Homo sapiens: one gene and its partners. The protein of the gene in region 2 interacts with the protein of the main gene of each other region in a pairwise test. Each region holds a gene or a part of one and is shown on either strand. Other genes may lie near its edges.

Region 1 (2,547 bases), on a different chromosome or scaffold from region 2:
TGTTGGTGAGGTTGTGGAGAAAAGAGAATGCTTATACACTGGTGATGAGAATATTAAATTATTCCAGTCACTCTGGAAAGCATCTGGAGATTTCTCAAAGAACTTAAAGCAGAACTACCATTTGACCCAGCAATCCCATTACTGGGTATATACCCAAAGAAAAAAAAATTGTTCTACCAAAAAGAAACATGCACTTGTCTGTTCATCGCTGTGCTATTCACAAGAGCAAAGACATGGAATCAACCCAGATGTCTAACAATAGTTGACAAAAGATAATGTGTTTCATGTGCACCATGGAATACTATGTAGCCACAACAAAGAGTGGAAATCATATTCTTTGCAGCACCATGGATGCAGCTGGAGGTGATTATCCTAAGCACATTAATGCAGGAACAGAAAATCAAATACCACAGGTTTTCACTTATAAGTAGGAGCTAAAAATTGAGTGCACATGTATATAAACATGAAAGCAATAGACACTGGGACTCTTGGAGTGGGGATGGTGGGGGGTGGTAAGGGTTGAAAAACTACCTTTCACATATTACCTCAGTGGCATGCAATTCACCCATGTAACAAATATACACATATAACCCTTGAACCTAAAATAAGAGTTGAAAAAAATAACGATAAAAGCAAAAAATCAAAGAAAAAAATTTTGGACAATAAATAAGATACAAACACCAAGATTTCTCTTGTGGATTAAATGTGTTTATTAGGTCAGCAGAGAAACAAACTACAGCATGAAAGTCATCAAAGGAGTCACTGTGACACCATCATCCTGATAAAAGGAGAAGTGACAGGTGAACTTCACCTTATCCCACTTCATGATGGAAACTCAGGGTATTTTTGGGTTAGATGGTAGATCAACAACAGATCATATTAGACTTCCACTGCAGGATATCATCAATCAAGGGAAAGGCTCAGAGCATGTGGGCTTCAGAATTGGTGAATTGCAATGTCACAGGATAGAGGGTGAGAGTCTCCCATGGTGTCCTCAATAGTAGTAGCCAAAGCTGGAGCCATAGCCAGAGCCGCACCTATAGCCACAGCCACAGAAGGAGTGGGAGACATAGCCATAGCCACAGCCATAGCCACAGTCCAGGCCTCTGTAGCCACAGCCACAGAAGGAGCCATAGCCACAGCCCAGGCCTCCATAGCCACAGTCCAGGCCTCCATAGCCAAAGCCCAGGCCTCCGTAGCCACAGCACCCATAGCCACAGCCGCCATAACCACAGCCCAGGCCTCCGTAGCCACAGCACCCATAGCCATGGCCACCATTGTAGTTTCTGTAGTAGCTGCCACACATGGTGTTGGTTGTTGAGGTCATCCTTGGGTAGGAAGGAGTGTAGGTGACTTCAGTATGGACACTTCTCCGCAGAGGGCCTTTTATATGCCTCAGTGAATCAGAACATAGCGTGCCCCTGCAAAAATATCTCTAAAGGCCTTTCATTGTGCTGAGAAGTTCTGGCCCTTACGTATCTCTCTGATTTCATATCCTGCTACTCTCCTCCATTTATCTATAATGCTCAAACTCTGCTGGCTTTTTGTCTTTTAAAATGCAGCAGGTTTCTTCTCACAATAAGGCCCTGGCCTCTGCACTTACTGATTTCTCTTTCTTAAAATAATACCAGGAATATTTGACTCATTTTCTATTTCAATTGAAATGTTCACTTCCCAGAGAGACTTTTAATGGCCACCTTATATTAATTAGTCTACCTCCAGTAACTGAACTTAATGTAACTCACTGAGTTTTATTATTCTCACAGGATTCTTCACTGTTAGAATCTATTTCATTCATTTTTAAAATCAGTCTCTCTATCCCTTCTGTCTCATTGTAACCTGCAGAAAGTAGAGACTTTGTCTATTTTGTTCATCTGCTCAATCTGCATTTCTTATAACGGTGCCTGATACAGCAGATTCTTAATAAAGATTTGATGAATTAGTGAAAAAATAACCAAATGAATGACATGATGCAACTTTCTATACTCAAATTCTGTGTAGAATAATCACAATCTTTGTTCTATGCTTGGGGTAACTGGGGATAAATTCATGTACTCTGGGATCCTTTTGGATCATATGCAAACCAGTGGAGGAATTTATCATGGTGATTTTTTTCTGGTTTGAGAATCCATGCCTTTTCCGATTGTTAAGGTGGTGGTATATATCCACTAAAGTTTATGAACTACTGTGTGCAGTTCCGAAATTCTGACTAAATGTTCTACTTGCCTCTTATTGATATGATACTTTGCCAGTCTCACATTGATCTACAAAGTATGATCCCTAGGTTGATCATTGGTAGTTCTGCTACATTTAAGAGTAGCAAATGAATTAATATGTACTATTATTTGTTTATATTTTATTCTAATTGCTTTATCATAATAAATGACTAATAATTCATTAATAATATTTAATAAGTGGATGGAATAAACGTGACAAATTATCACAGGGAGCTTCATAGAAAGTCAGCTCTCATAATTAAGGCTATCACCAGAATGCATTTGGGCCAGAAATGTGGTTTGCTGATGTTATTCTATCCAAGTCACCACT
Region 2 (4,233 bases):
CCTCCCAAAGTGCTGGGATTACAGGTGTGAGCCACTGTGCCTGGCCCTACTAAATTCTTAAATGGGCAAAAGATTTGAACAGATATTTCTCCAAGCAAGAGATACAAATAGCCACTCCCTACATGAAACTGAACATCATTAGTCATTGGGGAAAAGCAAATGAAAACCACAATGAGAGAACACATCACACCTACTAACATGACTATAATAAACAAGATGGAGAATAACAAGTGTTGATGAGGATGTAAGGAAACTGGAAACCTCATACACTGCTGAGAATAGAAAATGATGCCGCCACAGTGGAAAAAGTTCAGCAGTTCCTGTGAAAGTCAAAGAGGGTTGTATGACGCAGTAATTCCACTTCTAAGTATATGCCCAAGAGAAATCAAACATACACACACACAAAAATTCACTGAAGAATGGATACACAAAATGTGATCTCTCCATACAATGGAATATCATTCTACCACAAAAAGGGATGAAGTACTGACGCATGCTATAACCTGGATGAACCCTGAAAATGATGTGCTAAGCGAGACACAAAAGGTCACATATTGGCAGGTGGATTGCCTGAGGTCAGGCGTTCAAGACCAGCCTGGCCAACACAGTGAAACCCTGTGTCTACTAAAAATACAAAAAATTAGCTGGGTGTGGTGGCGGGTGCCTGTAATCCCAACTACTCGGGAGGCTGAGGCAGGAGAATCACTTGAACGCGGGAGGCGGAGGTTGCGGTGAGCTGAGATCGCACCATCGCACTCCAGCCTGGGCAACAAGAGCAAAACTCCGTCTCAAAAAAAAAAAAAAAAAAAGTCACATATTATGAGTCCACTTATTTGAAATGTCCTAGGCAAATCCATAGTGACAGAAAGCAGATTAGTGGTTGCCAGTGACTTGTGGAGAAATGAGGGACTGGGGAGTCACTGCTACAGGCTATGGGGTTTCTTCTTCAGATAACAAAAATGTTCTGGAATTAAATAGTGATGGTTGCAAGACTTTGTGAAAATACTAAAAACCACTGAATTGTTCACTTTAAAAGGGTGAATATTATGGTATGTGAATGATATCTGAATAAAATAAATAAATAGATCTGGATCCTGATCTTAGGACAGACCTTCTGTTACTGAGAGTTATCTAACCTGACAGCACTTCCTTTCCTGTTTTGCAGTATGGGGAAGATGACGACCCATCTGCTCTGCTTTCCCAGGTGTCTGGGGAAGATAACACAAAATACTGGATGTGAAATTGCACTCTCTACTCTTCAAGTGCAAGACCAAATATAAGGATCTCTTGGCCAGGAGCAGTGGCTCACGCCTGTAATCCCAGCACTTTGGGATGCCGAAGCCAGTGGATCACTTGAGGTCAGGAGTTTGAGGCCAGCTTGGCCAACATGGTGAAACCCCGTCTCTACTAAAAATACAAAAATTAGCTGGACTTGGTGTCGGGCACCTGTAGTCCCAGCTACTCAGGAGGCTGAGGCAGGAGAATCGCTTGAACCTGGGAGGCGGAGGTTGCAGTGAGCTGAGATTGCGCCACTGCACTCCAGCCTCGGCGACAGAGCGAGACTCTGTCTCAAAAACAAAACAAAACAAACAAAAAAAAACAAATACAAGGACCTCTTGATCTTGGGGACAGCACCAAATTCTGGATGTAAAATTGCACTTGTAGAGTAAAAGACCAAATACAGTTGATCTAGGGGTGAACAGCAGAGGTGTTGGTGGTTAAGACTTAAAAGAGGTTGCCTGCTTACACATTTGTTCTGTACCACATTCAGGGTGCTTTCAAAAGTGTTATTTCATTTGAGAATTACAATTCTCAGAGGTAAACAAAGTAGTTAACATTATTTTGTCCTTTCTTCCATGGAGAAATACAGGTTAAGAGACCTGGCTGGTACCTCACAGCTTTCACAAGAACCTGTGCCTTCTAACTGCAAATTCCCCTGTCCTCCACAACTTCACAATCCTACTGGGCTGGCCTGCCCCCAAACTTTCCCGGGCTTCCAGGCATTCCTGGCTGCTTCGAGAAGGGCTAGAAGGAGAAAAGTGACAGAGGAGTCCCCAGGAACCCACTTCTCCCTACTCTCCACTGTCATTGGTCCATCTGGGCAGACTGGGGTACGTGGTACAATACTCAGAAATCACGCAGTCTGAGGTCCTCAAACTTTTTTGACCCCCGAATTCTTTACTCAAAAAAGGACTGTAGGGGCACATGTTCTCAGGATCTCCTGGGGCTGTGTCATGGGCAAAGAAAGAAAAAATGATTGTCTCCAACTACCTGTAGGAGAGATAAAGAGAGTTCTGATTCGGCTCACACAGCGGCAGTCGTGGGCAAACGAAGCAGCAGCCGATCTCTTGACAATCGCTCCCTCTACCACTCCTCACCTCCTTCCTCCAGCATTTGAGTCCCGCCTCGCGCCACAGCCTCCCAGCAGTTCTCTGGGCGTAAGGGTCTATCTACAGCAGCCCCCACCCCGTTCTGCAGGGCTGCTCTGACGGCTCCCAGGCCGGACTCTTCCTCTCCAGCCTCTCCCCGCAGAGGCACGGTCTGATCCTGCGGTGCTGGGTCGCGGGAGCTGTCCGGGCCTGCCCAGCCGGGTGTTCCACTCCGTCTCCCGAGTCACAGCCACTCTTTGGCTCGGCCTCAAGCAGAACCCGGTGAAAAAGCCGCTGCCAGCTTTCCGAAAAACGACTGGCAACTGGCAACTGGCAACAATCTACCGGCAACCGCGAGAGCTCAAGAACCGCTGTCCAAGTACCGCCCAACGCCAGGTCCTGGCTCCAGCGCCAGAGGGACGCGCCTGATTGGCGCCACTTCCGGTCATGCGCACATGCCCCGCGGCGGCCACACCGGACTCCATTTCCCAGAAGTCGCCGCGGGGCTCTGTTTCTGGCCAAAGTCTTTTTCATTCCTGCAGCCCGGTTTATGATACACACACGCTCAGGGATTGTACTTCCCAGAGAGGCTTCCGCCTGTGCTTGCTCCCGGAATCTATTATCCATCGTGCTTTTTTGTTGCACACGTCTTTAAAGTCCACCAGAATCCAACGAAATGGAGCCTCGAGGAAAAGAAGAGATTTAGCCGCGAAGGATTCTGGGAATGCTGGGCTTACAGGGGCGCCGATCTTCGCTGGCGCTAGGCGCTTGGTTTCCTCTCCGCAGCTCTCTGCGCACGGTACGCCTGTCCCTCGTTGGCCTTCCACTCAGGGCAATCACCAGCCACTCTCAGGGTCCTCTTGAGCCGTACTAAAAGTTTGGGAAGACTAAAGGAAATCAGAAGTCCCTCAGTCTGAACAGGACAGCCGTGAGTGGGTGGCCTGGGACCCTCAAAGTATAAAAACCTATCGGCCGGCGGGAACTGCTTCAGTCATTTCAGGGGCAGTGTTTGATCAGCACTTCTGCGGGAGGAGATTCCTGAATCCTGTGTTCCTTAAGGGCTTCCCTGCTGCAGGCTGGGGATGTTTCAATGGACTTTCCCTCGAGCCCTTTGGAAATTACTTCTTAAGCAATTTTTCGATGATCAGCTCCTTTTTATAGGCATTTTGTCGTTAAGGGGAGGGGACTGGGTTACCCAGGAAATAAGTGAGTATGGGGATTCTAAGGCTCCTTTTCATTTTGTCTTGTCTCTTTCCCTTTCAATCACAGCCGGTGGCATTTTTGCCAGTGTAAGTTTCTTAATTTTGTGGGTCTTCCTATGAATCTTAATGGGATTGGCTCCATCGGAGAAGCCACACTCACAAATGTCTTTGAGCTAGCCCTTCTCTATATTGGGCAGCTGTAGTTTGGGGCTTACAGTTTTGTAAGAAGTCTGAAGTGGGTCTCACTGGGCTAAAATCAAGGTGTCGACAGTGCTGCATTCCTTCTGGAGGTTCCAGGGGAGAATCTTTTCTTGCCTTTTCCAACTTCCAGAGGCTGCCTGCATCCTTGACTCGCAGCCCCTTCTTCCAACTTCAAAGTAGCAACCTCAGCCAGAGTCCGTCCATTGCTGCCCTCTGTATGGTTCTCTCTCCTCCGCAGCCCTCTTCCACTTTTAAGGACCCTCATGGTTAACACTGGGCTCACCCAGCTAATTGAGGAGAATCGTTAAGGCCAGCTGATTAGCAACCTTAATTCCATTTGCAATTTTATTCCCTTTTGTCATGTAACCTAACATATTCAGAGGTTCCGGGGATTAGGACATGTATATCTTTGGGGGGTGGTATTCTGCTGACCACAGCAGGATTAGAAAACCAGATGGAAG
Region 3 (3,731 bases), on a different chromosome or scaffold from region 2:
CCTTGGGGGCCACCCATCCTTCCGCAGCAGTGGCTCTAACCCCAAGAGGGGATGACGTGGGTCTTTTTGCTACTGTGGACCTGGAGCGGAGAGCCTGCTTACCTTCTCAGGGTTGAAGTCTGGAGGATAGTACTTGTTGACCCCTTTCCTTTCACCCTGCAAAGCAGAACAGAGACATGACTCAGAGAGAGGCTGATATGGTTTGGCTGTGTCCCTACCCAAATCTCATTCAAAAAAATTTTTTCTGATTTTTTATTTTACTATTAATTTTTAGAGATGGAGTCTTGCTCTGTCACCCATGCTGGAGTGCAGTGGTGCGATCTTGACTCACTGTAACCTCCGTTTCCCGAGTTCAGGCGATTCTCCTGCCTCAGCCTCCTGAGTAGCTAGGATTACAGGCATGCACCACCACGCCCAGCTAATTTTTTGTATTTTTAGTAGAGATGGGGTTTCACCATGTTGGCCAGGCTGGTCTTGAACTCCTGACATCAAGTGATGCACCCACCTCAGCCTCCCAAAGTGCTGGGATTACAGGCGAAATCTCATCTTGAATTGTAGTTCCCATAATCCCCACGTGTCATGGGAGGGACCTGGTGGGAGGTAACTGAATCGAATCATGGGGGCGAATCATGCTGTTCTCATGACAGCGAATGAGTTCTCGAGAGACCTCATGGTTTTACAAGGAGCTTTTCCTCTTGCTCATTCTTGCTGCTGCCACGTGAAGAAGGATGTGTTTGCTTCCCCTTCTGCCATGATTGTTAAGTTTCCTGAGGCCTCCCCAGCCATGCTGAACTGTGAGTCAATTAAACCTCTTTCCTTTATAAATTACCCAGGCTTGAGTATGTCTTTTTTTTTTTTTTTTTTTTTTTTGAGACAGAGTTTCACTCTTGTTGCCCAGGCTGGAGTGCAATGGTGCGATCTCATCTCACTGCAACCTCCGCCTCCCGGATTCAAGCAATTCTCCTGCCTCAGCCTCCCGAGTAGCTGGGATTACAGGCATGTGCCACTACGCCCAGCTAATTTTTTTGTATTTTTAGTACAGACAAAGTTTCACCATATTGGCCAGGCTGGTCTTGAACTCCTGACCTTGTGACCCACCTACCTCGACCTCCCAAAGTGCTGGGATTACAGGCGTGAGCCACCGCGCCCAGCCCTTGGGTATGTCTTTATGAGCAGCGTGAGACTGGACTAATACACAGGCTCCCTCCAGGAAACCTACTTGTGCAGCCTCAGGGGGCAGGACCTGGATAAGGGGGACTTGGGGACATTTTAGAGGACAGTGCTGGGCTCAGTGTCTGATTGGGGAAGGGCTACTTGGGCAAAAAACCCATTGTCATTGCTTTGGAAAATTCCATGAGGTTCAGATGCTCCTATGGTGGCTTTCACACTCTTTTGGAGACTGTGATTGACGGTAAGAAGTATTTAACATTGCCACTGGGCAGATACACATGTAGTACCGTTGAACACAGGTCTCAAGAAAGAACACTGAGCCTGGCTGAAGAGTCGCTCTTGTTTTCTTCTTTTTTTTTTTTGAGACAGAGTCTTGCTCTGTCACGCAGGCTTGGGTGCAGTGGTGCAATCTTGGCTCACTGCAACCTCTGCCTCCTGAGTTCAAGCAATCCTCGTGCCTTAGCCTCCTGAGTAGCAGGGACTACAGGAATGTGCTACCACATCCAACTAATTTTTGTATTTTTTTTTTTGAGATGGAGTTTCGCTTTCGTTGCCCAGGCTGGAGTGTGGTGGCATGTTCTCAGCCCACTGCAACCTCCACCTCCCGGGTTCAAGCGATTCTCCTGCCTCACCCTCCAGAGTGGCTGGGACTACAGGCTCCCGCCAACACGCCTGGCTAATTTTTGTATTTTTAGTAGAGACGGGGTTTCACCACGTTGGCCAGGGTAGTCTCAAACTCCTGACCTCAGGTGATCCACCCAGCTCAACCTCGCAAAGTGCTGGGATTACAGGCGTGAGCCACCGCGCCCAGCCTAATTTTTGTATTTTTAGTAGAGACAGGGTTTCGCCATGTTGGCCAGGCTGGTCTCAAACTCCTAATCTTAAATGATTTGCCTGCCTTGGCCTCCCAAACTGCTGGTATTACAGGCGTGAGCCACTGTGCCTGGCCTTGCAATGGTTAATTTTATGTTATATGAATTTCACCTTGTTAAAAAAAAATGAAAGAAAGAAAGAGAAAGGAAGGGGTAGGGGAGGGGGAGGGGAAAGGGGGAAGGGGAAATTTAGGTTGAGTGTAGTGGATCACTTGAGGTCAGGAGTTTCAGACCAGCCTGACCAACATGGCAAAACCCCGTCTCTACTAAAAATACAAAAATTAGTGGGACGTGCTTGCTTGAACCCAGAAGGCGGAGGTTGCAGTGAGCCGAGAGCGTGCCACTGCACTCCAGCCTAGGCAACAAAGTGAGACTGTCTCAAAAACAAAAGAAAATGAAACAAAAAAACATTTAAAAAGTGCCCATGGGTGATGTTAGCGCAAAGCCACATTTCAGACCCACTGCACCAAAAGATGATGACCCGGAGATTGAAATCATCATCTTAGAGCTCTGGGAGGGGAGGAGGGGCTGCTTCCAGGGTCCTACAAAGACTGGGAGAGAAACCCAGGGCACACGAGGCTGTCTACTCACCATCTTGGGAGCTGCCTACTGGTCCTCAGCCTCGGGGCGGACGATCAGAAACTGGCCTTGTGAACACACTGCACTGTCCTGACCTCTTGTGGAGCCTGGCAGAGGGTCCACAGGCTTCCCTGCGAAGATGTCGTGGGCCGTGTGGTGGTGCCAGCTCAGACAAGACTCCCGCCAGGCATAGGAGGCATCCAAAAAGCGGCGTGTCTGTTTAGAAAGAGAGAGTCCCGTCCACTCTACAGCCAATATACGCATCACATCTGACACTTTCATCCCTCTGTGGCCCCCACCGGGTCCAGCACCCATCATCACTCACGTGGGCCAGCACGGTCTTCTCTCTCCCGACTCTGCCCTTGACACTTGCTCACCCCACAGCTGCCCAGGGGATCTTTTTGTTTTTTGAGATGGAGTCTCGCTCTGTCACCAGGCTGGAGTGCAGTGGCGCGATCTCTGCTCACTGCAACCTCCACCTCCTGGGTTCAAGTGATTCTCCTGCCTCAGTCTCCCGAGTAGCTGGGACTACAAGCGTGCGCCACCACACCCAGCTAATTTTGTATTTTTAATAGAGACAGGGTTTCACCATGTTGCCCAGGATGGTCTTGATCTCTTTACCTCATGATCCACCCGCCCCAACCTCCCAAAGTGCTGGCATTACAGGTGTGAGCCACCATGCCCAGCTGGGATCTTTTAATATGAACAAACGTGTCACTCTCCTGCTTAAACCCCTCCCATGATTCATATGGTTTTTAGAATCAAGTCAAACCCCTTCCCACGGCCTGTGGGGCCCCTGCCTGCCTCTCCAAGCCTAACTCTTACCCCTCTATCTCTCGTTCACTCTGTTCCAGCCACACTGGCTTCCTGGCTGTCTTCAAAGGCCAAGTGCAGCTGGCCTGCACCTGCTGTTCCTCAGGTTTGCAAGCTCTTTGTTACAGGCTTTTTTTTTTTTTTTTTTTTTTTGAGACGGAGTCTCACTCTATCACCCAGGCTGGAGTGGGGTGGCATGATCTTGGCTCACTATCTCTGCCTCCTGGGTTTAAGTGATGTCATGCCTCAGTCTCCTGAGTAGCTGGGATTACAGGTACCCGCCACCAAGCCTGGCTA

What was found.
Region 1: the proteins of ZNF79 (region 2) and KRTAP6-3 interact in a two-hybrid assay, tested with the Homo sapiens proteins (one large-scale study listed by BioGRID).
Region 3: the proteins of ZNF79 (region 2) and YJU2B interact in binary tests that used the Homo sapiens proteins (3 or more experiments, as listed by UniProt).

The regions. Positions count from the first base shown.
Region 1 is NC_000021.9:30,591,226-30,593,772, reverse strand, and holds KRTAP6-3 (keratin-associated protein 6-3), read right to left. Parts: upstream 1,334-2,547; 5' UTR 1,307-1,333; coding exon 995-1,306; 3' UTR 718-994; downstream 1-717.
Region 2 is NC_000009.12:127,422,949-127,427,181, reverse strand, and holds the start of ZNF79 (zinc finger protein 79), read right to left. Parts: upstream 2,801-4,233; 5' UTR 2,395-2,800; coding exon 2,379-2,394; exon of another isoform or gene 2,272-2,378; intron 1-2,271. UniProt on the Homo sapiens protein: May be involved in transcriptional regulation.
Region 3 is NC_000019.10:13,750,714-13,754,444, reverse strand, and holds part of YJU2B (probable splicing factor YJU2B), read right to left. Parts: intron 2,838-3,731; 5' UTR 2,637-2,837; coding exon 2,634-2,636; intron 157-2,633; coding exon 103-156; intron 1-102. UniProt on the Homo sapiens protein: May be involved in mRNA splicing.